3 linked regions of the Homo sapiens genome follow. The protein of the gene in region 3 interacts with the protein of the main gene of each other region in a pairwise test. Each region holds a gene or a part of one and is shown on either strand. Other genes may lie near its edges. The genes, in order: ZBTB1, KAT6A and HEMGN.

Region 1 (8,661 bases), on a different chromosome or scaffold from region 3:
ATTCTAACTCTATAGAATTATTGCTTCTTTGATAATTCAAGAAAAGACAAAGGCACTGATCAAACTTGTTTGGTGCCATTTCTATATAATCTAATAAGGTTGTTGTTGTTGTTGTTGTTGTTGTTGTTTTGAAACGGAGTCTCGCTCTGTCGCCCAGGCTGGAGTGCAGTGGTGCGATCTCGGCTCACTGCAAGCTCCGCCTCCCAGGTTCATGCCAGTCTCCCGCCTCAGCCTCCTGAGTAGCTGGGAATACAGGCGCCCACCACCACGCCTGGCTAATTTTTTTTGTATTTTTAGTAGAGACAAGGTTTCACTGTGTTAGCCAGGATGGTTTCGATCTCCTGACCTCGTGATCCGCCCGCCTCGGCCTCCCAAAGTGCTGGGATTACAGGTGTGAGCCACCACACCCAGCCCTAATAAGGTTTTTTTAAATTTTTATTTTTGGGATAGAGTCTCACTCTGTCACACAAGCTAGAGTACAGTGGCGTGATCATGGCTCACCACAACCTCAAAATCCTGGGCTCAAGCCATCCTCCTGCATCAGTCTCCCGAGTAGTTGGGACTGCAGGTGCATCATCATGCCTGGCTAATGTTTTTTTGTTTTGTTTTGTTTTGTTTTTAAGGCGAGATCTTGCTATGTTGCCCAGGCTTAATAGGGTTTTTAAAATAGATTATTTTAACAACACATGGCCAATCTTGTATCATCTATTGCTCCCCACACCCACCCCATTTATTTTTAAGCATATCTCAGATGTATCATTTCATCTGTAAATACTAAAGTATATATATCCAAAAGATAAGGATTCTTTTTAACACAATCAAAATACCTTTCTCACACTTAAAAAATGAGCAATAGCTCCTTAGTATTAATCATTTAATAAGTTTTTCATACTTTACAATCTAATTGTTAACTTTCAGTTTAAGTTGCTGTTTTATTTACTTTCATTACTCATATCCTTCAAGAGTTGTTTTCTTTTTTTTTTTTTCTTTTGAGACAGAGTCTTGCTCTGTCATCCAGACTGGAGTGCAGTGGCGTGACGCAACTCACTACAGCCTCTACCTGTCGGGCTCAAGTGATCCACCCACTTTAGCCTCCCAAGTAACTGGGACTACAGGTGATGCCACCACACCTGGTTAATTTTTTAAACTTTTTTGTAGAGAAGAGGTCTCACACTATTGCCCAGGCTGGTCTCAAACTCCCGAGCTCAAGCAATCCTCCTGCCTCGGTCTCCCAAAGTGTTAGGATTACAGGCGTGAGCCACTGCACTCGGCCTCCTTCAAGTATTTTTAAATTAATGTCTTTTTTTCTGTTCAAATTTAGTGTACATGTTCCCCCCAAGAGTTGTAATGAAACTAAAACTGTCTTTTGCTTTTGATGCCTTTGTTCAATATGAAAAGCCTGAATAAATGGCTGGATGTCTTCATCTTCAAATTTAAAAAATGATTCAAGTATATATTATTGAGTTTTATTAGAATGGAAAGCTCTTAATTTCTTGATTGTAATAGCAGTCATGCAAGTCACAAATCATGATAAAAGTTAATTTTGTCAAGTGCTTTTCTATATCTTGTTTGACTTTAATATTTTTGTTTTACATAGGTCTCTAATTAACAGAAGATGGCAAAGCCCAGCCACAGCAGCTATGTCCTTCAGCAGCTAAACAACCAAAGAGAATGGGGTTTTCTCTGTGACTGCTGTATTGCAATTGATGACATTTACTTTCAAGCACACAAGGCAGTTCTAGCTGCCTGTAGCTCCTATTTTAGAATGTTTTTCATGAACCATCAGCATAGTACTGCACAACTGAATCTCAGCAACATGAAAATTAGTGCAGAATGTTTTGATCTCATTTTGCAGTTTATGTATTTAGGAAAAATTATGACAGCTCCCTCCAGTTTTGAGCAGTTTAAAGTGGCAATGAACTACCTACAGCTATACAATGTTCCTGACTGTTTAGAAGACATCCAGGATGCAGATTGTTCTAGTTCAAAATGTTCCTCTTCTGCTTCCAGCAAACAGAACAGCAAAATGATATTTGGGGTAAGAATGTATGAAGATACTGTGGCTCGAAATGGCAATGAAGCCAACAGGTGGTGTGCAGAGCCAAGTTCAACGGTAAATACACCACATAATAGAGAGGCTGATGAAGAGTCTTTACAATTAGGTAATTTTCCTGAGCCACTATTTGATGTATGTAAAAAAAGTTCCGTGTCCAAATTATCTACTCCAAAAGAACGTGTGTCAAGACGCTTTGGGCGGAGTTTTACCTGTGATAGCTGTGGATTTGGCTTTAGCTGTGAAAAATTATTAGATGAGCATGTGCTAACCTGTACTAACAGACATTTATACCAAAACACAAGATCTTACCATAGAATAGTAGATATTAGAGATGGAAAAGACAGTAACATCAAAGCTGAATTTGGTGAAAAAGATTCTTCCAAAACATTTTCTGCACAGACGGACAAATACAGAGGAGACACAAGCCAGGCTGCTGATGATTCAGCTTCAACCACTGGAAGCAGAAAAAGTAGCACAGTGGAGTCTGAAATAGCAAGCGAAGAGAAAAGCAGAGCTGCTGAGAGGAAAAGGATTATTATTAAGATGGAGCCAGAAGATATTCCTACAGATGAACTGAAAGACTTTAACATTATTAAAGTTACTGATAAAGACTGTAATGAATCCACTGACAATGATGAATTAGAAGATGAACCTGAAGAGCCATTTTATAGATACTATGTTGAAGAAGATGTCAGCATAAAAAAAAGTGGTAGGAAAACTCTAAAACCTCGAATGTCAGTAAGTGCTGATGAAAGAGGTGGTTTAGAGAATATGAGGCCCCCTAACAACAGCAGTCCAGTACAAGAGGATGCTGAAAATGCATCTTGTGAGCTGTGTGGACTTACAATAACCGAGGAGGACCTGTCATCTCATTACTTAGCCAAACACATTGAAAATATCTGTGCATGTGGTAAATGTGGACAAATACTTGTAAAGGGTAGGCAGCTTCAGGAACATGCTCAACGATGTGGCGAGCCCCAAGATCTGACCATGAATGGGTTAGGAAATACTGAGGAGAAAATGGACTTGGAAGAGAATCCTGATGAGCAGTCCGAAATAAGAGATATGTTTGTTGAAATGCTGGATGATTTTAGGGACAATCATTACCAGATAAACAGTATCCAAAAAAAGCAGTTATTTAAACATTCTGCCTGCCCTTTTCGATGTCCTAATTGTGGCCAGCGTTTTGAAACTGAAAATCTAGTGGTTGAACATATGTCTAGCTGCTTAGATCAAGATATGTTTAAGAGTGCCATCATGGAAGAAAATGAAAGAGATCACAGACGAAAGCATTTTTGTAATCTGTGTGGAAAAGGATTTTATCAGCGGTGTCACTTAAGAGAACACTATACTGTTCATACTAAGGAAAAACAGTTTGTTTGTCAAACATGTGGAAAGCAGTTTTTAAGAGAGCGTCAGTTGCGACTGCACAATGATATGCACAAAGGCATGGCCAGGTATGTCTGTTCCATTTGTGATCAAGGAAACTTCAGAAAACATGACCATGTACGGCATATGATTTCTCATTTATCTGCTGGTGAGACTATATGCCAGGTCTGCTTTCAGATATTCCCAAATAATGAACAGTTGGAGCAGCACATGGATGTTCATCTGTATACATGTGGAATATGTGGAGCAAAATTTAATTTGAGGAAAGATATGAGATCACATTATAATGCCAAGCATTTGAAAAGAACCTGAGTGATTTTCTACTGTACTAATGTTTAGATGATAGCAGATAAAACACCAAAGCAAAGGATATGAGCTATTTAGGAATTGATTATATAAGATGATTTGTTAGAAACAAATTTCAAGGCCCTTTTAACTTTAATATTTTTGTTTAGGATTTTAAGTATCTACATTTAGGTATTAAATGTTTATCATTTTTGTTGTTTCTTAATAGAATTATTTGTTTTTAGTTTTTCTTAGCTATGATTAAAATTTTTAAATGTAGACTACAAGTGGTTGTTACCCATTCAATGACTATTAAACTTTAGTTTTTCATCAATAAGGTGATGACTTCACTATTTCTATGTGTTTTTTTTTTTTTAAGGTTATCCTGTGAAATTTTAAACCCAGAATCATTGGCCATTTCTGTTTAAATTTTAAAAATTCCTTAAGTAATTATTTGAAACTATCCCGTTTGCTTTTAGTGAGTTAACTACTCTTTATTCCCCCTTATTAATGAAATTCATATTCTTAAATTGACAAGCTTATTAGGCAAGTTAGGTGCACTGAATCTAACCTTTAAGGTTGACATGGGCTCAAACTTGGCCTAAAAAGATTGATGAACCTGAGGAAATTTTTATAAATGAATATTTCCTATAATTGATAAAATATTATCATTTAATTATCACATTTAAAACTTATATTAAGTGTAAATTCCAGTGGCTTTACCTCACTTGAAAAATTAGTGGGGATAAGCCATTTTGTTTTGTGATATTAAATTTAACTATGATAGTTAATTAAAAAGACATATCTTGTATTCATTAAAAATATTTTAATTTAAAATATTCTGATTTCTAAAGTGTGTTAGCTTATCAATTATTTTTGTTTATAAATAGACTTTAATAGCTCTCTAAGAATATGACCTCTAAAGGAAAAGATGATTTTTTACAATACATACTTCTGGAACTTTGAGATTTGAGAAAGCTTCCATGTATATTGATAAATCTAATAAAATAAAGAGATCAATTATAAACCTGGTTGTTCTATAAAAGTAGAGTGCACAAAAAAATGTCTTGTGTTTTATACTGTCTAAGATTTGGAGGAAATGTGGCAAATTGCAGTTTATCGCCATATTTTATTATCATTTTTTTCTGTAAAAGACTATAAAACTTGAGGATTATAAAATAATCACAGAGTATATCAATGGAAACAGTTTATCATTTTTTCAGTTAAAGTAGTAGTATTGTTAGTTGTTGCTGACACAGGGTCTACATAATTACATGTGAATTAAAACATTGGCAAAACTGACCCACCAATAAACACATCTATTGAATAGAATGCCTTTTAATGTGAATTACTTGCAATGTAGTACCCTTTTCATAATGAAAGGGATTTTAATTAACTCCTAATTTTAAAAATATAAATTTGTGATTCTGAACACTAATAGCATTGCTCTTTTTGTTCACATCATATTTAAAATATGCAAATCATATTTTGTATACAATTTACATAAAAGAACAAGTTGCCAAAAGAACTGAGAGACATACTGGTGAGTACAGATTTAGTTGAAAGCATTAGAGCACCATGTGAGCTCAGATTTGTGGGGATATGTTGAAGTGTTAAGTAAGGATAGGAACAGCACAGGAACCAAGTGCAGAATTCAAATAACGGGAAGTAGGCAGGGGACGGGTAGAATACACACAAAAATTAAAAATTTAACAGCAAAAGCAGGAAAAGTGATTCATCTTACCCTTACTTAGATACAATAGTTTATCAAGTAATTAAATTTGAAATCCAACTTAAAATGAAATGTGGTATGTATATTACTGATAGGAACCAGATAAAAGTTCTCTAACCCAGAGACCATCAGAGAGTGGTATAAAGAGATCAGATAAACCAAGTTTCCAAACTACAGTATATAGTATCATAATGGACATAATTTATTTGAGATCACTTTTTTCGTGACTCATCAAAATTTTTCTTGCAGTGGCTTTCCCCATTGTTAAAGAATAGGGCTTTTTCTAAATACTACCACTTTTTGAAGAAACGATTATCTATTCCATTAGGAAGGGGGCTTAATTTAGTCTTTTGATATGTACTAACAGCTAACAATTAGCAAGCAAATATATAAACTTTACTCTCTAATTTTACATGACTGAGATGTTTATAGTTTTAGAAAGCCATACCTCAACTTATTTTTTATTTTATTTATTTATTTTTCTTTTTTGAGACGGAGTCTTACTCTTGCCCAGGCTGGAGTGCAGTGGTACAATCTTGGCTCACTGCAACCTCCACCTCCCAGAATCAAGCAGTTGTCTGCCTCAGCCTCCTCAGTAGCTGGGATTACAGGCGCATGCCACCACGCCCGGCTAATTTTTGTATTTTTAGTGGAGACAGGGTTTCACCGTCTTGGCCAGGCTGGTGTTGAACTCCTGACCTCGTGATCCACCGGCTTCAGCCTCCCAAAGTGCTGGGATTACAGGCATGAGCCACCGTGCCCGGCCACCTCAATTTTTTTTTCTGAGTTTCATGTTACACAGAACATACCTTTTTGTTTTGGAGCTAGCTACAGGGAAGCACAGGCTTCTCTAGAGTGGAATGTACAATTCTTATCAAGGCAAAAAGTTAAAGACTACTTGCTTTTTAAAATTAGGGAGAATGAAAAATATCCAGCACTTTTCCCCAGCCCAGTTCCCTAATATCTCCTTCCTCTCCTGGGGCAGAGCTGCAGAGCTGTCATTCCTTGCTGTTGCTTCTTGCCCTCCCTGGGTGTGAAGGTAATGAAACAAGTGTGTTGAAGCTGCCAGATCTTCTGCCTTTGTAACTTAGGTGTTCAGGTTCCAAATCTAAAAATGAAAGGAGAATCTACACAGATATATAGTGGAATCAAATTCTCTTTCTGTCTCATGAACACCATGAGACTCTTTTGCTTTGGCCCTTTTATTCTACACAGCAAGAAAACCCAGAGGAATGGTTAGCAAGCTTGCCATCAACTATAGTACAATACAACTTGCATGTTCTACGATTCCTTAGTAAACAGGACTAAGAATCTCAGAAATTAATAGAGCACAACCAAGGCAGCAGTAGATTAGGACTCAGAAATGCGTCTTCATCTCCCCCATGTTTTTAAGGTAAAAATATTCAGAGGCCAGGTGTGGTGGTTTGCATCTGTAGTTCCGGCTACTCGGGAGGCTGAGGCAAGAGGATTGCTTGAGTCCAGGAGTTCCAGACCAGCCTGGGCAACATAACAAGACCCTATCTCTAAAAAAAAAATTTGTTTAATTAGCAGGGCATGGTGGCATGCAGCTGTAGTCCCCAGCTACTCAGGAGGCTGAGGTGGGAGGATCAATAGAGCCTAGGAGTTCAAGGGAGCAGTGAGCTATGATCATGCCATTACACTCCAGCCTGGGTGACAGAGTGAGACTCCATCTCTGAAAAAAATTAGAAATGACGCACATGGGTTAAATGGTATATGGCAAACTAACAGTTTGAGTATGGACAAAAATTCAATTAGAAGAAAGGATCCCAGAGGGGCTAATAATTTAAAAAAAAAAAAAGTTTGCTAGAGCAGTCAGGACACTAATTAAAAGGAAAAGTAGAGGCTGGGCACCAGCACCTTGGGAGGCCAAGGTGGGTGGATCACCTGAGGTCAAGAGTTCGAGACCAGCCTGGCCAACATGGCAAAACCCCACCTCTACTAAAAATACAAAAGTTAGGCCAGGCGCAGTGGCTCAAGCCTGTAATCCCAGCACTTTGGGAGGCTGAGGTGGGTGGATTGCGAGGTCAGGAGTTCAAGACCAGCCTGGCCAACATGGTGAAACCCCATCTCTACTAAAAATACAAAAAAATTAGCCAGGCATGTTGGCACAAGCCTGTAATCCCAGCTACTTAGGAGGCTGAGGCAGGAGAATTGCTTGAACCCAGGAGATGGAGGTTGCAGTGAGCCAAGATCACACCACTGCGCTCCAGCCTGAGTGACAGAGCGAGACTCCATCTCAAAAAAAAAAAATTAGCCAGGCGTGGTGGCGCGCACCTGTAATCCCAGCTACTTGGGAGGCCAAGGCAGGAGAATCTCTTGAACTTGGAAGGTGGAGGTTGCAGTGAACTGAGATCATGCCACAGCACTCCAGCCTGGGCAACAGAGCAAGACTCCATCTCAAAAAAAGATAATAATACACACGAAAAATCATGTTTTACTGTAGCTGAAAAATATATGAACAGGATATAAAAATTGAATAAAAAACATTTGAAAATTATAGGTGAGATGAGTAGGGATTAAAAATAATATGACTATAATTATAGAATGCCTATGGAACAATTTTATGAACATGCCAAGGATATGCCTAAATAATTGAGATTTTTGTAAGTAATGATGAGAGAGGAAAAAGTAATTGAGATATTATCTTTTATATTCTAAAAAAAAGTAGGAAGAGAAGCTGGTGGTGGTTGACAACTTTTTCCCTGGTTAAACAATACTCATTTCTCTAAGTCAGTAGTTAAGGAACTTTGTATTTAATAAATTTCTGGAAAATCTTCCCCAAAACCAGTTTAGCCATTGTAATATTTAAATTAAACATAAAACTTGTGTCGTTGTTAACAAAAAGCCAAATCACTACCAAAAGAAAAAAATCTGAGTGTATGTGCACACATGGTTAAGAATAAAGAAATCTGGTATACCTAATTTTAACTGGGTTTTTATCATGAATTAAAAGTTAAAACATTTTTCTTTTCTTTTTTTTTTTTTTTTTTTTGCCATTCATCTATTTTGATCAGTTAGTTCCTCAACTTTCCTTACTACTCCCATCTCCTTTGTAACATATACTTCTCAGTAATAAATGGCCAGTGCTCTCCAGACATCCTAGCATCAACAACTTCTGGGATTGCAGGGTACCAAAAAGCTCTGGGGGAACATACCCTTGTAGAATCCCTCCCACATC
Region 2 (8,529 bases), on a different chromosome or scaffold from region 3:
TTCTTTAGGTTATTTGTTATCAAAGCGTGAAGGCCAAGCAGGGTCTCCAGAGAAACCGTTATCTGATCTGGGTCGTCTTTCCTACATGGCATATTGGAAAAGTGTAATATTGGAGTGCCTTTATCACCAAAATGACAAGCAGATCAGCATTAAGAAGTTAAGCAAGTTGACTGGAATCTGCCCTCAAGACATCACTTCCACACTCCACCACCTACGAATGCTGGACTTCCGTAGTGACCAGTGAGTATCACATCTTTTTGTATACCTTTGAAAGATAATTAGGTTGAAGTTTTTTGGATCAGCCAGTCAGATTATTGATGAAAGGGCATTAACTAATATAAATGATATACTTGGTGATAATGAGATATCATTTTCCTTTCTAGGATATTTTATTTGATTGACTATATATATGGTCTATATATAGTCTATATATATGCTTTTTAAACTGAATTGTTTTTCTGATACCCCTAATTTTTGGACCTAAGCTACTGAATCTTTCATCTTCTAGTATTGGGAGCTCTTTCACAATACAAGAAGTAACCACTCTAGAAACAGTCATTAAATAAAATGCCCATGTTAAATTTTCATATAAATGGCACAAAGTAAATATAGATTGAAAGGAAGAACAGACAGTTCACCCTTCACTAAAGTGGTCAGAAAAAGGTCACAAAGAAAGGAGGCATTTGAGCCAAATAAATGGAGAATAGGAAAGAGAGTGCAGAAGAGCAGCAGAACTTCTGGAGCGGGACGTGTGAGACAGCAGGCAGTGAAAACAGCCCGCGGCCACGGTAGAGAGCGAAGCATTTGTCCTGCTTCACACTCCTGGCCGTCTCATGTGGTGGCACATTTCTGCATTCCATCGTCCCAGGCAGGCTATCTTTGCAGCACCTATCATCTTACATGCTTCACCAGGGGTCTCATCTCCACATTCATTTTTATGTACACCTTGTACATTGTTGATTGCTATAAACTTTTCTCTGGTTCCAGATTTGTGATTATCCGCCGGGAAAAACTTATCCAGGATCACATGGCAAAGCTTCAGCTGAATTTGCGACCTGTAGATGTAGATCCAGAATGTTTGCGCTGGACTCCAGTCATAGTGTCCAACTCTGTGGTCTCAGAGGAGGAAGAAGAGGAGGCTGAGGAAGGAGAAAACGAAGAGCCACAGTGCCAGGAAAGAGAATTAGAGATCAGTGTAAGGGCATGAATAGTCTCTATTTTTGATGACAGAAGATATATTTTTGATTTCATGAGTATTTATAATAATGTATTATGATCATCTTTCACAGAAAAGTAAATTCACATTAGAATGTCAAGAGTTTTATTTCAGTGGTAGAGATTTCAAGAAGACTGGACCTGGTTTACTTAAGTATTTTTAAGCCTTGGACAATTAGGAGGAGACCATCAAATTTCTTATAATGTGTTACTTGTGAGAAAAATATTTGTTACCAGGGTGCCAAGAAGCAGCTCAGTTTTAAGCTGGATAGTAGTTGAGAAATCTGAATTGAATCCAAATCTGACAGTTTTTAAAAATGAAATGGAGGTTGGGTGTGGTGTTTCATGCCTGTAATCTCAGCGCTTTAGGAGGCCCAGGCGGGAGGATTGCTTGAGATTAGGAGTTCAGGACAACCAGGGAAATATAGTGAGACCCCATCTCTACAAAAAAAACCCAACAACAAAATGAAATGGAGATACATTTTCCTTAAATAGAATATTAAGTAACTATTGTAAACTTGTGTATGTTTTCTGATGGGGCACCAAAACATCCTGTGGACACACAGATCTCTTTAGCCGTTAAAGGGTTGCTGGTGAACTGTAGTGCATGTGTCATTGTCAGTATTTTTCTTCATGTGATGCATACTTTTATAGCTCTTTTTTTTAAGCAGTGCTTCATCCTTTCAACACCGGTATCCTCCTTTAATAAACATAAAAAATCCCATGCCTCTCTTTAGTGCAGTTTAATTTTTCAAAATGAAATTATTCAGAATAAAAGTAAATTTAAAAACTACATAAACTTTCTTTCATATTTCTCAAATGCCTCCTTCCTCTTGCCCATGTCTCAAGATCCTGTCTCCTCCACCCTGTTTACAAATTTTTATTTCTGAGAAATTTTATTAAACAATCTCATTTAACATTTAAAAGAACAATAGTATTCACTTTGCTTATTGAGGGTGGTACTGCAGAAAGATTCAGAACATAGGCTCTGGAGTCAGACTGCCAGGCTTTCTATCCCAGCATCTTCTCTTGCTCTTGCGTGACCTGGGGCAGATTACTTAAATTTTTTTCTACCCCACATGCCTCATTTGTAAAGTGGAGTTGTAGTGGTAATACTTCATATGATTGTTGGGGAGATTAAATAAATAATGCATATACAGAATTTAAAGCAGTGCTGAAACAGGAAATATCCATGTTAAATAACTGATCATTTTCTTTTTAAAGCTCAGTTTCCTTTTCTTCTCTCAATACTTAAAAGGTCAGAATAGGTAAATGTAAGCAAACAAGACTGAAAAATTAACCAGCATTGTTTTATTTTCTAAAATCAGGTGGGAAAGTCTGTGTCTCATGAGAACAAAGAACAAGATTCTTATTCAGTAGAAAGTGAAAAGAAACCAGAAGTTATGGCTCCAGTCAGTTCTACACGTTTGAGCAAACAAGTCCTTCCTCATGATAGTCTTCCTGCAAATAGCCAGCCATCTCGGAGGGGCCGCTGGGGGAGGAAGAACAGAAAAACCCAGGAACGTTTTGGTGATAAAGATTCTAAACTGCTCTTGGAAGAGACGTCTTCAGCTCCTCAGGAACAATATGGAGAATGTGGGGAGAAATCAGAAGCCACCCAGGAACAATACACTGAAAGTGAAGAACAGCTGGTGGCTTCTGAGGAGCAGCCAAGCCAGGACGGGAAACCTGACCTTCCCAAGAGAAGACTCAGTGAGGGGGTTGAGCCCTGGCGAGGACAGCTCAAGAAAAGCCCTGAGGCTCTGAAGTGCAGATTAACAGAAGGAAGTGAGAGGCTGCCCCGTCGCTACAGTGAGGGTGACAGGGCTGTCCTCAGGGGCTTCAGTGAGAGCAGCGAGGAGGAGGAGGAGCCGGAAAGCCCTCGGTCAAGCTCGCCACCAATTCTCACAAAGCCCACGCTGAAGCGAAAGGTAACGCATTTCTTTCCAGGTCTTCTCTTCCTCCAATTCCAGTTTATCTTACACCTTCTCGTTTTAGCTTACAGTTCTGAAAGAGTATAAGTTAGAAATTCCTAGTGCATTGCTTTATAAACCTTAAGCCTCTGTATATTGTAGCTCAAGATCTTCCCAGTGAACATTTGAGATGTGTGTGTGTGTTTGACTTCTTTGATTCATGGGAATTCACTTAGAAATCATAAGCTTATTTAAGGGCTTCACCTCCTGGGATGCAAACAAACTTTTTTTTAGCTTACTGGTTTGATGTTCAAATCATGACTTTTAGGGGCTTAAAGCCCTAAAATATCTTTAAAAGATATTTTTAAAGTATGTACAGATTAGAAGTGTTTATATTAGAAAAGGAGGCCAAAATATTACATAATTAATTGGAAAGTGAACATAGTGCTGCCCTATATTTTGGGGTACTCAGAGTACAGTAGCTCATCTTGGGTGCTATTGTTTTCTCTCTACTCTCCCCACTTCTCACACATCCCTCCAGTGGTTTAACGTGGTCTCTCTTGCTTTAAAAATATTTTCTAAACTATATTCCATCATAATGATAGCCAATTAGTTATTAAATAATGTACAATGATGATAATGAATTCTGTTAAGCCGTTTACCAGAAACATCCCAGGCTATGGAGTGGATTTTAAGCATTGCCAGGAGGCAGCCAGACTGAAGCGAGGCTGCTCCCTGGAAGAGCCACTCAGCCAGCTTCCAGCCAAAGCAGCACAATCGTTCCTTTCCTTACAGGGTCTTAAAAAGCAAGACAGGATCTTTTGTTTTGTTTTGTTTTGTTTTAAGAATAATATCTTCAGAGCAGTTTTACATTTACAGAATTAATGCAAAGAAAGTACAGAGAGTTCTCGCATACCCCAGCCAGTTTCCTCTATTATTAATCCCTTGCGTTGGTGTGGTACATCTATCACAGTTACTGAACCAGTGTAGATACATCAGTAACTAGAGTTCATACTTTATTCAGATTTCCATAGTTTTCCCTAACGTCCTTTTTCTGTTCCAGGATCCCACCCAGCATATCGCATTACATTTAGTAGTCATGTGTCTTTAGGTTCCTCTTGGCTGTGGTAGTTTCTCAGAATTTCCTTAGTTTCGATGGCCTTCATAGTTTTGAGAATGACTGGTCAGGTATTTTGTAGATGATCCCTCATGATATTAGAATGGGGTAATATATTCTTGAGAGGAAGACCATAGAGGTAAAGTGCCATTCTCATCACATAATTAAAGGGTACCTGTTGGCATATATCTATCAGTATGTATAGGGAAGCTGGGCATAGTGGTCACTCTTGTAATCCTAGCTACTTGGGAGGCTGAGGCGGGAGGATCACTTGAGCTGGAGGCTGTAGTGCACAATGATTGTACCTGTAAATAGCCACTGTAGTCCAACCTGCGTGACATAGCAAGACTCCGTCTGTAAAAATAAAAAGAAGCAAGTATCAAATATAAGGGTATTATCAATTTGATTTTTCCCTATTGAAGTTAACTTTGATGACCTGGCTTAAGATATTGTTTGTCAGGTTTCTACTTTTCTTTTCCCTTTACTGGAAGGAAGTCACTGTGCATAGCCACACTTAAGATTTCTACCCCCTCAGAGTGGAGGCTCAGCATAAATTATTTGAATTTCTGCTTGGGAGATTTGTCCTTTCTCCCTCATCTGTTTATTTATCCAAGCATTTATTTATATCATTATTGGCCCAGATATTTACGTGATACTTCACTTTATAATCCAATACTACTGCTTTTTAAAATTTGTTGCTCAGATTGTTCCAGTTTTGACCATTAGAAGCTCCTTCTTTTAGTTTCCCTCTTGGGCTGCTGCTGCTTTTTTTTTTTTTTTTTTTTTTTCCTTCCCCAGATGGGGTCTTACTCTGTCACCTAGGCTGGAGTGCAGCGGCATGATCTCAGCTCACTGCAACCTCCACCTCCTGGGATGCAAGCAACGCTCCCACCTCAGCCTCTTGAATAACTTGGACTACAGGCATGTTCCATCACGCCTGGCTAATTTTTTGTACTTTTGATAGAGACAGGGTTTCGCTATGTTGCTCAGGCTGGTCTTGAACTCCTGAGCTTGGGCGGTCCACCTGCCTTGGCCTCCAAGGTGCTGGGATTACAGGTGTGAGCCACCGCGCCTGGCCTCCTGTGTTTAACATATATACTGTTGTTGTCATTGTGGGGTCTTTTTGTTTGTTTTTAAGCATTTCCTTTCTGGCACTACAAGATGCTTCAAGTTCATCTTGTATATTTCATGCCCTTGTCCTAGAATCAGCCTTTTCTCCAAGGACCAGGGCCATTTTTAATCTAATTTGAAAATTACATTCTCGATTGGGACTATTAAGTTTGAAGTAGAGAAAAATTGAACATTGACTAACTGCTGTTCATTGCATGATCATGAAGAATAGATCTTTGTCATCCTAGCACTTGTATTGCCAATTTATGAAGTAAAACAAATCATGTTAAAAAAAGAAAAAGAACAGGCAGTAAGCTCACATGCAAAGTAATTTTGAAGTTAATGAATAAATGCTTTGACTGGATGTGTGAACTTAAGCAAGTCCTATACCCTCTCTGACATCTATAGAATGAAGGGATTGGATTAGATAATCTCTGGGGCATCATCTCTTATTTTGTGATATTAGTTGTATAATTTTAGCTATTTGGTCAGTCCAGTGCAAAGTTGTGCTCAGTGTGCCCAAATTTCAGTAACAGATTTATTTTACTTTTGAAATATTTCACTAACACTGAGTAAATACATTTCAGCCCCATATTTCTACATTCCACAGCTTTTTATGAGTAGTTCATGAAAATGGCATACAACTTTACTGATAGTTCTGCAAACCTTCACAGTAGTGCTATAAGACAAAGTGTTTTTATTTCTCTTTTGCTCTTAAGTTGGAAAAGTTAAGGGATTAGCCTCTGGGTCAGTTCAGTATTAAAACAGGGCAACTCTCTAGGGTGCTAAATTTAACTGAACTATTAAGAGAATTATAATGTCTGCTATTTGGAGATGGCTGCCTATTCTTTTACAAAGTTGTGTTCAATTGCCTAATACCTTTGTATTTATAATAAGTGTATTATCTTACTATAGTATTTTGAAATAATATTCAAAATATTTTTTGGCAAACAACATCCTCATTTTATATGTGCTAATTCTATTTGGTTTTAAAACTGTTTTCGTATTATTAATAGAAAAGATAGTGTTCATAACTGTAAATACTTGCTTTCTCTATTAAACAGAAACCATTTCTCCACCGAAGGAGGAGAGTCCGAAAGCGCAAACACCACAATAGCAGTGTAGTCACAGAAACTATTTCTGAGACCACTGAAGTGTTAGATGAACCTTTTGAAGATTCTGACTCCGAGAGGCCAATGCCAAGATTAGAACCCACGTTTGAGATCGATGAAGAAGAGGAGGAAGAGGATGAAAATGAACTTTTCCCTAGAGAATACTTCCGTCGTTTGTCTTCGCAGGATGTACTCAGGTGTCAGTCCTCTTCTAAGAGGAAGTCTAAAGATGAAGAAGAAGATGAAGAGTCAGATGATGCTGATGGTATGTTTTACAGAACTCACTTACTGTGGTTTATTGTCTTCAGATATATAGCAGTAGCAGTGACAGACCCTTCAGTAAAAAGGCTGAAAAATGAACACAACCCACTAAGCAAGAAAAGGAACGTTTGGCAATCTCTAAAAAGTTGTATCAAGTATATCCATCTTGATTTTTAAATGTGTTTTCCCTTCAACTCAGAACCTCTATTAATTTGCCTCTGCAGAAAATATCTTACTATTAGGCAACTGTTCTTTTTTGCCCAATCCTTTCTAAGCCTTTATCAGAATCTTTAGTTAATGGGAGAGTTGGACTTAGCATCAGGAAGATGTAATAACCCTTCACTAGAATGTGCATTCTCTAGACTTAGTCTGTTTTGCTCATTGCTGTATGCTGAGTGCTTAAGCCCGGCGCTCAGTAAGTAGTGTTAAATGAGTGAATGCTAAGAAGACAATTCTCCAGAAAGAGCAGATTCATGTAAATTGGAACTTGTGTCACATCTGTTCAGGAGTCTTTCCTGAATTGTATCTCTAATGTGTCTTACCCAACTAGTAGTAAATTTCTCACAAATGGTAACAATAACTCAAAATAAATTTTATAGTATAGATACAAATCCAACTATTTACTTTTAAAGCAGCCTAGTTGTCATTTCTTCTCTAGAGACACTGAAACTAGGTCTCATATATATGAGCCAGGTCAGAAACAAGTCTTTTTCACCCTAGCCTAAAGTTTTGCCAGTGTCTCATGCTGCCTGCATCTGCAGTGTGTTTATCTCGCATGGGCTCAGAATGAGCATTTTTACTTTGTTGGGCAAATTTGAAGAAATCTACTTGTCCAGTCTTGGTACATAAACCTTTAGCTTTTATGCATTAACTGGTTGAACTTTTTAATTCTTTTAAAAATTCAGTCAGTTTCAAGTCTAGAAGATAAACTTACATTTTCTCCATTCTCATATTTTCTATATAACAAATACTTTTTTATTTTTTATTTTTTATTTTTTTGAGATGGAGTCTCCCTCTGTCACCCAGGTGGGAGTGCAGTGGCACAGTCTCAGCTCACTGCAACCTCCACCTCCGGGTTCAAGCGATTCTCGTGCCTCAGCATCCCAAGTAGTTGGGATTATAGGTGCACGCCACCATGCCTGGCTAATTTTTGTATTTTTAGTAGAGACGGGGTTTCACCATGTTGGCCAGGCTGGTCTCAAACTCCTGACCTCAAGTGATCCACCCGCCTTGGACTCCCAAAGTGCTGGGATTACAGGTGTGAGCCACCCTGCCTGGCCAACAAATACTTTTAATATAGTGATAAGATGAATGTGTTCTTTGCTCTATCATGAATGATTCTACAGAGTTTAACTTGCTATGTTTTGAAATAACATAACTAGGAAACTAAAAATTTATTTTGTAAATTTAGCACTTTATATTCTGTCTTAGATCATTGTACACTAAAATAGTACCCCTGATTAAGTTCCCATGGACTTAGATTTTTGCTGATGCAGCCATTTCCTTTGTTGACTTTCAAGTTACTACTACTAACTGTGCCTTTTTAGCCGTGCCCCCACTGCATCATGTTCTTGTCTTGGTATTCTTATTCTTTAAAAATTAATAGGCAATGTGAGTGTACTTAATGCCACTGAACTTAACACTTATAAATGGTTAAAATTTTAAGTTTTATGTTACGTATAGTTTACCATAGTTTTTTTAAAATGCTAATAATATAAAATTTATTTCTAATGAATGTAATTGGTGCTTTAATTTTTTCTTGTTTGTCTAAGTCTAAATGTCAGTTTTTGTCTAGGACTAA
Region 3 (12,273 bases):
GTATATATATATATATATATATATATATATAAAGATGTGCAAAAAAGTTATGTAACATTCACTACAAAAGAGGCTAAAATCAAGCATGGTTATAGCTCAGAAAGGAGAGACCACATCTAGGCAATTAAAGGGAATAGAACAGAATGGTTAAATCCCTAAACTTTACAGTCGGACAGCCTTAGTTTTGAGCCCTAATTCTGCCACTCATGAGTTTATGTGATCTAGGGATATAACCTCTTTAAACCATGGTTTTGTTATCAGTGAAATGGGGATACTATTAGTTGGAAAAATGAAATGAGATACTGCATATAAAGTGTCAGCTACCCATTATGAGTTTGTAGAGTGACTAAAGTCTCATCATATCATTGTCATCGTTGTCATCATCATCATCATCAAAGGCTTTGTGATTAAGGCACTCACTATCTGGATCGGCAGACATATGACAGAAGACTGAACAACCAGAAGTTATGAAGATAGGTACTGTGGGTGTTAGAAAGATTCACGGCAAAACAGGGAAGGCAAGTGGTACTATTTAATGGAAACATTGGGTAGTTCCAGGAAAGTAATGGGAAAGAACATTGGGAAGTTAGACTTAAATGCCAGACTGGGAAATTTAGTCTTTATTCTGCAGGCAATACTGAGGCTTTACAGGATTCTAAACATGGAAGTGACTGGTTCAGAGCCAGCTGTAGCAGGAATATTCTGGATGTTTGTGCAGGATGGACTTGGGAGGGTGAGGGCAGATGAAAGCAGATAGCCACTTAGGGAGCTTTTCCAATGCTTCCAATGAGAAGTTGAGGCCCCTCTCTGGGATGGTGGTATAGGACAGGAAAAGATGGAATGAGCATGTGGGACACTGGGAAGAAAGAACTGGCAGAACTGTATCTAGCTGAATGTGAGAGACAAAGTGAAGAGGCAGAGTCAAAGAGACTTCTGAAGGCTAAGAACTAGATGGCCAGGCATGGTACTACTATTCTAACAGAAATAAAGCACAGGGAGCCTAGTTTTAGGGGGGAACATATATTTGCTTTTAGTTATGCTAAGTTTGAGGTGCAGTGGGACATCCAGCTAATAAGTGATAACCAAGAAACACTTGGAAATGTGATCTTAGAACTCAGACATATTTATTTAGAAGACATCTGCAAAGAGGTAGTAGCTAAAAGTATATAGTTGGATCAACTGTCTTTGGGTAAGAGTATTAACTCAAAAGGATCAGGGACTCTTGGAAAACACCTCCCATACCTAGGGGAGTGAAAGAGAAGCCTGTGAGCAAGGAGGAGGAGAAGGGAGAGAGAGGTGAGAACACCACACCATCAGAGAGGCTCCACACCATCAGAGAGGCCAAAAGTGGAGCAAATTTCATGGAGGATAGGAGTACTCAGAGGAATTATAAGCTGCAGAGAGGTCAAAAAAGAAGAACTGAGAATGGACCACTGGATTTGGCCATTAGGAAATCATTGATGATTTATGAGAGAATGAGTGAAAGAAAAAGCTAGATTACATATGCAAAGCAATGAAATGGTGTAGGGGGAAAAGGAGACACTGAGAATATATTACTAGTTCAAGAAGTTCAGAAATGAAAGGACAGGGATAAGGGGGAGGCTCAAGGTGGGACCAGAATTGCTCTTCCCCAGATAAATGACCACTCATCAGTGTTTATTCAGAGATGTTTGTCTATACTCTAACAGAAGGAGCATTTGTGGGAGGATTCCAGAGGAGGGACTTTGGGACAAACTAGATTGAAAGGCAGGCTACAGCCATTCTAAGTTATAGAACATGTTATCTATATGTGTACAGCAGCATCTGTTTTAGCAGACAGAAGTCATTTATCATGCATCAACAGACTGAGAGAGAGGGGAACAAGAAACTGTCCTTCTCCTTCTCCACTTAGGAAAGCAAAGCTTGATCCAGTCTTTGAAAAGTATTTAAAAGCTTTGAAAAAGTATGTCAGCAAGGAAGGAATGCTAAGAAAAACAAGTGTCCATTGTGTTCCCTTCCATGACTTTTCCACCCAAATGTATTTTAGGAAATTGCCCAGGTGCATCATTAGAACACTCTAATATCACTATCAACACTGTCCGGGTTGATGGGACTTATATCTGCCGTGTTTTTCATTTTATAAAAAGCTCCCATGATCTCTTTTATCCTCACAGAATCCCCATGAGGTATTACCTTTCTCTATTTTACAAGGGAAGAAACTGAGGATCAGAAAGAATTAAGTGATTTTCCCCAAGTTACCCAGCCAGGAAAATGATAGAGCCCTGTACCCCTCATTCTTTTCAGTGTATGCTTTCATATAATATGGTCTTCACAGTATGGCTCTCTGACTATGGCATGACAAACCAAAGTGTACCAGGGCTCTCATCTCTCTGGTTTTGGAGGCGCTATAATTTTTATCAATATAGCCTTAAATGGCGTTAGCTTTGGGGCACTTTTACCCCGTCTTGTTTTTGACTAAACAGTATCCAGTACATGGCCTGAGCTATTTTTTCCTGTGCTCCCTTTTCACCCCCATCTTAAAGGGCCCTAGGGCAGAAGTTTCAGCAATGTGTTTCCTCCCTCCTTCATTTGCCCAGTTCAGTCAGGCCTCTGAAATGTATGACCAAATTCTCAATACTTACACCTGCTCCAGATGGTCAGGAAGCAGGAAAGCAACTCTCTCCCTCAATACCTAGTTTGTTCTAGTAGGAAGAGGGCCAGGCTGGGCTTGGTAGCTCATGCCTGTAATCCTAGCACTTTGGCACGCAAAGGCAGGGGTATTGCTTGAGCCCAGGAATTCAAGACCAGCCTGGGCAATGTGTCAAAACCCTATCTCTACAAAAAAAATACAAAAAATTAGCCAGGCATGGTGGTGTATGCCTGTAGTCCCAGCTACTTGGGAGGCTGAGGTGGGAGGATCACCTGAGCCCAGGGAGGTAGAGGCTGCAGTGAACTGTGATTGTGCCACTGCACTCCAGCCTGGGCAACAGAGTGAGACCCCATCTCAAAAACAAAAAAAAAAAAAAAAAAAAGAAGGAATTAGAGGGAATTGGAGGCTGAAGGCCCAGCTTCTGGTGCGAACTACCAGTCTCACTCTGTGATCTTAGTTATATCACTCAATGCACTGAGCACCAGTTTCTTCATCAGAAAAATGAGGACAATAATAGCTATGTTATAAGTCTGCTTCAAGGATCCAATGAAACACTTGTGAAACACTTGCTAGGTTTAATTTTCTGCTATAGCCATCTTGAAATTCTTAGCAATTTTTGAAGGAGAAGCCCTCTGTCTTCATTTTGCCATGGGTCCCCCAAAAATTATATAGCTGGTTTCATCTGCATGCCCTTGGCCAAGTTACTTCACCTCCATAATCTATAATTAATTTAAATGAATTGAATTGTTAGGAAATCAATTGTTAGGACAATTCTCAATCCTTCCTCTACTTTAGCAAAGTTTGACACAGTGGATTAGTCTCTCCTCCTTGAAACAGTCTTTCCTCTTGGCTTCCGAGACACTATATTTTTCCAGTTTTCCTCTGCCTCACTGGCTGCTCCTTTGCTGTTTTCTCCCTAACCTGTTAGCACATCCAAAATGAAACTCTTGATCATCTCCTCCAAGCCTGCTTCTCCCAATCTTCCTGATCTGTGAATGCTAACTCCATCCTTCCAGTTGTTCACAACAAATCTTTATCTTGATTCTTTATGTCTCACCCCATATTCAAGTTATAAGTTAATCCAGAATCTGACCATGGCTTCACCACTGCCATCATCCAAACCTTAATTATCTCTCATCTGGATCATTGCAATACCATTCTGATTGTTCTTCTTGCTTCCTCTGCCCCTGTCCCACATAGTAGCCAGAATAATTCTTTAAACATGTAAGTCAGATCGTATCACTCCTCTGTCCAAAACCATGCCATGACTACCCATCTCACTCAGAGTAGAAATCCTACAAGGGGCAATAATAGGCTTCTTCTCTGATCCCACCTCCTTAACACTCCCCTCCTTGGGCCATTTGCTGGTGCCCCTATACCTGGAATGCCCTCCCAGATATCAGCATGGCATATCTGGCCTCTCACCTCCATCAGTTCTGTTCACCTGTCACCCTATCAGTCAAGCCTTCTCTGACCACACTATTTAAAATAGCAGCCACCATCAACCTCCTTTTTCTTATCCTATTATGCCCAGCTCAGTTTTCTCCAAAGCACTTATCACCATCTGACACATTATATATTTTATTTATTTCCTTATTGTTTATCTCTCCCCATTAAAATGTAGGTTTCATAAAGGCAGGGACTTTGCTGTTCAATTACTCTATCTCTAACACATAGGACTGCGCTGGGCACAGAATGAATGACAGTAGAAAGAGCTCTGACACAGATGATGATATTGCTATTATTAAGTCACAGCAGCATCAAGCCCTGAGTGTATAAATTACTGTCCCAGGCTGCATGTTCATGAAGCAGGGAGTGAGGGCGATTATGGGGACTACAGTGAGCCAAGCCTCCCACCGGATCATACTGTGGAGACAGAAAAGTGAATCAGGAGCTGTATCTGCTCTCTAAGGGTTTGTGGCCTAGAGAGAGGTTTATGTATATATGCAAATAACTCTAGAACAAGGCAGCATTTGTCAAAAAATATGTGGACTTTAATGCCTAACACACATTCTGGAAATTCTAGTTAGAGAATTCTAACTAAATTTCTAACTAGAATTTTCTACAGAGAGAAGGGACCATGAACTGTGGCTTGTAAACTTACTGTAGGCTACTTCTGTCTCAAATTCCCACTCTGGCCTGTTTATCATGCCAGAGACACCTTGCCTGACTTCCAATCTAGTTTGCTCCAAAGTGTCTCTCCACTGGCCTCCTCCACCCAATATTACCTTCAATTTACTGTTAACTTGAAACCCCACCCTCTTACAGTCCCTCCACACTCTGCTTCTAGATACAGGGAACATGGGGCAGGGGTGGAATTGACTTAGGTAGGTTGTAGCAGGATATAAAGAATCTATTATTTCCTTGCAATACAGATGTACACACTTTCTCCTCTATGAGCCTACAGGGCACAGGGCTCAGGAACTGCACCATCCGTCTCTACAGCACAAGAGGGGGCATTAAGTAAAATTTGCTGAATTGTTGAACTGGGTGTTACAAGCTCTTAGTAAGGACAATTTTATTCAAGAAGTACCTCTGCATCCACTGAAGGTGTCCCAGAGGGATTCTATAATGTTATTTTATTAAACTATCCTAATGTAAGAAACAACCTAACTAATAAGAATTAAAACATATCAACTAAAGGGACCAATATTTAAAAAAACACTATTTTGTAATTTTTAAAGTTAGTTTGAGTTATTTAAACCCCATATCTGAAAATCCAAAATTTTCAAGCAAATAATGCCTGCTGTTCCGTGCAGGATTCCTTTGAGCAGGGGCTCCCTGAAGTTACCTGAACTTTTAGATACAGAGATTTACTTAAGAGAAGGACTGGGGAACTGAGAGAGGTAAAGCTAAATATTAGGGTTTAGTAATTAAAAACCAAGTTAAATTTTAGTGGCAGATACTTGGGTGTTTGTTATATCATTCTCGATACCCTTTAGTGTGTTTGACAGCTTGTTTCTCTAATATATTTACATGATACACACATTTTTATACCCAGGAAAGATCAAGCACACAAAATGATGACCCATCTCCTAATCTGTAAGAGATGCTGCTGGCAATAAGTAATAAAATACTAAGTATAGGTAACTCTCCTCCTCGGTTCTCAGTTTCTTTGTATACAAAATAGGCAGGGACTAGATGATTTTGGGCTCTTCCAGTTCTAATGCCTTAAGACTCCATGGAAGTAGTGGGTATCTATTCACATTACAAAGGTCTTTCTTTATAAAGAATCCTCTTCAGATTCTCTCTTTAGTGCATTTAAACTATGACTTGCTTTACCAAAATCTGGTTACTGTATTTTTATTGGTAGCTAACATTTACTGACCAAGTTCAATATGCTAGGCACACATAAAATGCCTCATATGGATTACTGGACTTAATCATCCCAGTAACTTTCTGAGGTAGATACCAATATTGTCCCCATGTTATAGATAGGTAAATTGACTCCAAGGCTATCTAACCTGCCTCAGGTCACTGAATTAGGGAATGTCAACACTGGAATTCAAACTCACTTCAATTCAATCTGAATCCAGAACACATATATTAATCCTGCATCTCCCAGACTGGCTTCCTGTATCAGGAGGTGCTCAGGGTTTCTTCTTTAGTTGAACCATAGTAGTCTGTGGCTCCTTGTCTTCACAAATGGGGTTACTGCTTGGAGATAGGATGGTTCCTTTGATTATTTCAACTTAATTTCTGGGATATAATGTGGTGATATTTTCATTAAGAAGTAATTTTTCACCTTCCCCTATATGAGTAACAATGGATTTCACTAGTTATCTTGAGTCACTTGCGAATGATTTGGTGAGCCAAAAAGGGTACAAAATTGCTGTGAAATTCTAATTTGGTTCTTTATGTCTATTTCTTAACTAAGTCTAACAGCATACACAGCAAAACTGTACATTATTTTGCAACAGATTAAGGTGAAAAAAGCTACATACAGGAAACCATGTAAGATTAATATATATCACACTTTCTAGAAACTTTTATATCTATTATTTTCACTTTCACAAGAACCGTATGAAGTAGGCAAGACAGGAATTATTTACCCATTTTGCAAATGCAGAGAGTCATAGAAAAGGGAGGTGACTTGCCCTGGGCCACTGAGCTGGTTGGGGCCTAGATTGTGTTCTTTCTACACTAGGCTACCTCCATCTGTAAAAAGGAACATCGGATCCAGACACTTCCTGGCAGATAGAACCAAAAGAGTGCTGACTAGAGGCTGTGCCATGCCAGGCTGTGGTCAGAGAGTTTCCCTGTATAAATAGCAACCTATGCTAGGGGTTGCTAGCACCAGCCATTTCCCCTACTCACACCTGTGCAGTGTGATAAAGATAGTAGAATTAGCCTGCAGTTGTGGTCCAACCAGATAAAACTTTTAGGCGGGAAGTCAAGTGACAGGCAAACTTGTGTGTGTGGTTTTTTTTTTTAAGTGTTAGATGTTTTTGATATTTTAAAAAAGCATCTAGGCTGCTTGTGGAAGTCAGACCAAAATAGCAGGAAGGTATTGCAGCAAGATGGATTTGGGAAAGGACCAATCTCATTTGAAGCACCATCAGACACCTGACCCTCATCAAGAAGAGAACCATTCTCCAGGTAATGAAAAATACCTTAAGAGCTGGTGGCTGTTGAGAAGAATTCGGGGTATGATAATTTTCTCTTTTCAATGGATCTGGCCAAAAAAAAAAAAAAAGGAAATAAATGAAAGCTAATGAGACTAGTTCATCCAATAATTTCATTCGATGGCTGTGGTAAAACAAGTGGATTCATACATTTCTATGGCAGCACAAATTTGGTCTAACGTTTGGAAAGAGATCTGGCAATAAGTGGTGAGAGCTATAATACTGCTTATTCTTTTGACTCACTAATCTCAGTCCTTGGATCTATCCTAAAGCAACATTTCTCAAAATGTTTTGTGGAAACTTAGGCCTTGAGATACCTTAAGACATTGTTTTAAATTTTTTTTGCTACATGGATCTCTTTGGCATTCTGATGAACCCAGAGACTCCTTCTTTGAATAAAATTTTTAAAGGCATAAAATTAAATATATAAGACTAGAAAGGGAATAATTACATTAAGATACAAATATCAAAATAAAAAATTATTATATAGTAATATATATGATTATTTATAGATTACAATATCCAGTGGTGGGTCTAATAATAGTATCAAGTCAAATAAGTCATAGCCAGTAGGTGATATTTTAAGGTATCTGCAACAACTATAATGTGATAAAAAAATATGTGATTTCTTTATAGGGACCAAGTCATATGCTGAGGGGGAGGGAGAGCATCAGGAAGAATAGATAATAGATGCTGGGCTTAATACCTAGGTGATGGGATGATCTGCACAGCAAACCACCATGGCACATGTATACCTATGTAACAAACCTGCATATCCTGCACATGAACCCCTGAACTTAAAATAAAAGTTGAAAAAAAAGTCATATACTGCCAAAACTACTGTGGTTTGTTATCTACATTCATAATTGAAGGAACTGTCAATTTTAATTAGAGGTTGGTAAAAATAAAGATATAATTTTTCCTATTAAGAACCCTTATCCCAAGAACAAGAGGCACCATGGTTCAAGGGGCATGCTCTATTCTTTAGAGGTCCCAGTGTGGATTTGTATCACTTCACAGGCTCTAGGAAGCTCTGCATCAAAGACTCATCAATTTTTCTCAACCTTAGACAGCAGCAGAAACTTTTTTGATCAAACCCTTAATTTTCCAAAGAACTTGAAAAAACACCGTTCTAAGGAAAAAATACCAAAGAAAAGCTATATGCAATGAATATGCTTATTATAATTTGATATACAAGGCAAAGATAACTAGCAACAATCTAAATGCTCAATCCAAGAGGAATGATTGGGTAAATGAGAGTACATCAACTAGACTATGTATCACATTGTCATTAAAATTATCATTATGAAGACTACGTCATGGAAAATAGTTCTAATATAACGCTAGCTTAATAAAAAGATTAAAATTGTGGTATGCTATTCTTACAACTTTGTGTAATATAAAGACTGGATAGAAGTGAGGAATAAAATGAAAACAAGTTATCATGTTAAAGACAGCAAAATATGGCTACTTTTTTCATTATTTGTACAATATATAAAATTACTTTGAAGAAATTAATAGGTTGGTAGCACACTTATGTACAAATACTATGTAGGAGTAGGTCTCTGACCTTTTCATTCAAAAACATTTGCTGAATGTCTGCTTCCAGGCTTTCTCTGGAGATACAAGGATAAATGAGATGCAGTCCTTGTCCTCAAAAAGCTAGGAGAAAAACCTAGAACAGAGACTCTGCCACTTGGCTACAGGACTTTTGCTGATAGACACCACAGTTCATCACTTTTTCTAATCACTTTCATTTTATTACAGAAGTCATTGGAACCTGGAGTTTGAGAAACAGAGAACTACTTAGAAAAAGAAAAGCTGAAGTGCATGAAAAGGAAACATCACAATGGCTATTTGGGTATGGTAGCATCACAAGGGAAAGGGAACTAATATATTTATTGAGGATGTTATGCATAAAGTAGTGCTGTGCACTTTACACACTGTATTTTATCTTTCCAACAATCCTGTAAATCAGACATGGTTATCCCTATTTTACAGAAAAACAGAGACTAAGCCTCCAGTGAGTTACACCTCTTGCCTAAAGTCACACACACAGCTGGTAAAATGGTGGGAACAGAATTTTTTCCCTGGTCTCTTTTAATTAAAGCACTGAGCAACCGAATTATATTGTAGAGAAGCCTGGCGTTTAGCTCCTAGGTAATATAAACATAGAAGCATCCTGTTGGGAGTGGGAAACATCATTGAAGAAGCCTCCAAGATTGTTCGCCAAGCTTTCTATTAGCTAAATCTTTACTGAATGAGTGTGATTAACTCTCCATGGAATAAGCCAAAACATTCGCTGTAAATGAGTGACAAAGAGTTTAGATAACCTGTATGTTCACCTGTATGTAAATGCAGGAAGGGGGTACAATAACATGACTGTAAATTAGGCGACATCTAATTGCATCCATTTCAAATATGATTGTGGAAACTGGGGACTTGCTTGCTTGGAAGGGGAGCCCAAAGAGCCAAAAGTGCAGCATCCATCTAAGCCAAAGTGTCTCCACCTTGGCACTGCTGACACTGGGGGCAGGAGAACTTCCTGTTGTGTGGGGGGCTGGCTTGTGCACTGCAGATGTTTTGTAGCATTTTCTGGCCTCTAGATGCCAACAGCACCTTCCACCCCAGCTGTGACAACAAAATGTCTCCAAACATTGTCAAAAGTCTTCTGGGGTGGGGTTGGGGGAAGACAGGCAAAATCATCCCCAGTTGAGAACCACTAATTTAAGCAAAGCACTCTTCCTAAGAAAGGGCATTTTCCAATCCCCAAACCCCGCTGTGGACTGAGCACTGTCTGTTCTGCTACAACAGATGTTTCTATAACACCAAGTTCACATACGATTGATAAATAGGAGAATGATGTCAGTATAATGTGGGGGTTGTGTTGGTTCATGATTTTTTCCTAGTCAGAAGAAAGCAGAATAGTGGGAAGAGAATTAAAGCTTTCAGCTGGAAAGAAAAAGCCTTCAGCTTGGCTGTTGTATAAGCAGGATTCTTTTCAGCCAGCATCCAGGGTTCCCTCCTCAGAGAGGCACAACACCAGCCTTGCGCAGCTCTCCATCAAGTGGCAGCTTGCACTTCCCTCCTGTGCCCAACTTAACGGCAACCCCGCTGGCTCAGAGCTCAGGTCTCAGCAGCTTCAAGCCTGCAATTACACTATATTTGCATTTACTATCCCCTGAGGCAGCCTCCAGCCACAGTAAACTGCTTGTCTAGACCATCCAAGTTCTCTCTCCTGGTACCAATTATTGTTTTAGTTAGTGTTAAAATGTTGCAAGGGTTTTGAATCATTTGTCCCAAGCCTATTTGCCCCACCTCCATAACCACTGTAACTTTATAGAGGATGATTTTGCAGAAAGTGAGGTTTTTTTAGGAACACGTGTATCATTTTACAGTAGAAATATTTGTATTAGGGTCCTGTGGCAGGTCTATTGAAGATTATCCAATTAGCTCCCAAATTCCATACCACTAAGCAATCTTCCAATCATTACTTGGCTTCCCAAGTACTTATCTACAGAGACGGTGCATTTGTTTGGGAGCCCAGAACCCAGGTATTCTCCTCCCCTCCCCTCCCCCCTCCCCTCCCCTCCCCCTCCTCTCCCCCATCCCCTCCTCTCTCCTCCCCTCTCCTCTCCTTTTCTTTTTTCTCTTTCTCTCATTCATTCATTCATTCACTCGTTTTGAGACAGAGTCTCACTCTGCTGCCCAGGCTGGAGTGCAGTGGCACAATCTCGGCTCACTGCAACCTCTGCCTCCCAGGTTCAAGTGACTCTCCTGCCTCAGCTCCCAAGTAGCTGGGAATACAGGCACTGGCCACCACGCCCAGCTAGTTTTTGTATTTTTTAGTAGAGACGGGGTTTCGCCATGATGGCCAGGCTGGTCTGGAACTCCTGGCTTCAAGTGATTCGCCCACCTTGGCCTCCCAAAGTGCTGGGATTACAGGCGTGAGCCACTGTGCCCAGCCAGTCCAGGTATTTTCTACTATGTGACTTTGTATGTCTGTTCATTTAAAAATTGGTCTTTAGGTTTATATGTCAGTCTCCTTAAATCTGCTTGATGAGCTCTGCCCCTGATAAATGGAGGTAGTCTCAGTGTGCTAACAGAATCAGGTTTCTGGGCTTGCTGGGCTGAGGGTATTCACTCAAATGGATAACACCTTAGTGAGCCTCTTGGCAGCTGGCTGGACTTGCTCTGGTGATACATCTCTATAATGCTAAGGCCTGTGCCCTCTTTTCTCACTACAACACACCATACAGTGAAACTTTATTAGTTTCAGAGAGAGGCAGCAGAGTGCATGGTTATGAGCCTGGCTGTTAAAGCCAGAATGACTAGATTCGTAGCCTGGCTCCCCTACTTGGTAGCCAGAGCCCTTGGAAATATTATGGAAAATAAATAATTCTCATTATAAACGAATAGATTGGCACTCTGGTTTATATACTAGTCTCTTTGCATTTAGTCTGTGTGTATTACTTCACTACCCCTGAGTAAACTCATACTCAGGGTTTCTAGACCTGCAATCCAGGCACGGCTCCTTATCTGTGCAGCCTGCAGGTGGATAATGTATATGGCTTGATTATCAAATACAAGTGTTGGGCAAGTTACTCAACATCTCTGTGTTTCAGTTTTGTCATTTGCAAAATGAAAATAATAACTACCTACTTCATAGACTGATGTGAAGATTATATGAGATAACAAAATAACTAAATTATTTAAACGGTGCCTGACATATACAAGCACTATAAGTGTTTCCTGTATTCATATGAGTCCTAATTTATATTTGAATAATTCATTCATGTAAGTTATTATATATAATTCTTATAACCACCACATGAAATTGGGCCGATATTATTTACCTCATTTCACTTACAAGGAAACCAAGGCATGTAGAGGTTAAGTGACTTGCCCACAACCATGAGAGAGTACAGACTAAAGTTTAGGCCACATAGGTATTTTTTGCATTTTTTGAAAAACTACCTGGGAAGACATGGACTATTACATTACTCAGATCTCCTCATA

The links.
Region 1: the proteins of HEMGN (region 3) and ZBTB1 interact in a two-hybrid assay, tested with the Homo sapiens proteins (one study listed by BioGRID).
Region 2: the proteins of HEMGN (region 3) and KAT6A interact in a two-hybrid assay, tested with the Homo sapiens proteins (one study listed by BioGRID).

Annotation. Positions count from the first base shown.
Region 1 is NC_000014.9:64,519,890-64,528,550, forward strand, and holds the end of ZBTB1 (zinc finger and BTB domain-containing protein 1), read left to right. Parts: intron 1-1,597; 5' UTR 1,598-1,615; coding exon 1,616-3,757; 3' UTR 3,758-5,062; downstream 5,063-8,661.
Region 2 is NC_000008.11:41,935,459-41,943,987, reverse strand, and holds part of KAT6A (histone acetyltransferase KAT6A), read left to right. Parts: intron 1-8; coding exon 9-240; intron 241-987; coding exon 988-1,195; coding exon of another isoform or gene 1,196-1,207; exon of another isoform or gene 1,208-1,939; intron 1,940-2,543; coding exon 2,544-3,146; intron 3,147-6,419; coding exon 6,420-6,732; intron 6,733-8,529. UniProt on the Homo sapiens protein: Histone acetyltransferase that acetylates lysine residues in histone H3 and histone H4 (in vitro). Component of the MOZ/MORF complex which has a histone H3 acetyltransferase activity. May act as a transcriptional coactivator for RUNX1 and RUNX2.
Region 3 is NC_000009.12:97,933,013-97,945,285, reverse strand, and holds the start of HEMGN (hemogen), read left to right. Parts: upstream 1-7,113; 5' UTR 7,114-7,149; coding exon 7,150-7,228; intron 7,229-9,021; coding exon 9,022-9,115; intron 9,116-12,273. UniProt on the Homo sapiens protein: Regulates the proliferation and differentiation of hematopoietic cells. Overexpression block the TPA-induced megakaryocytic differentiation in the K562 cell model. May also prevent cell apoptosis through the activation of the nuclear factor-kappa B (NF-kB).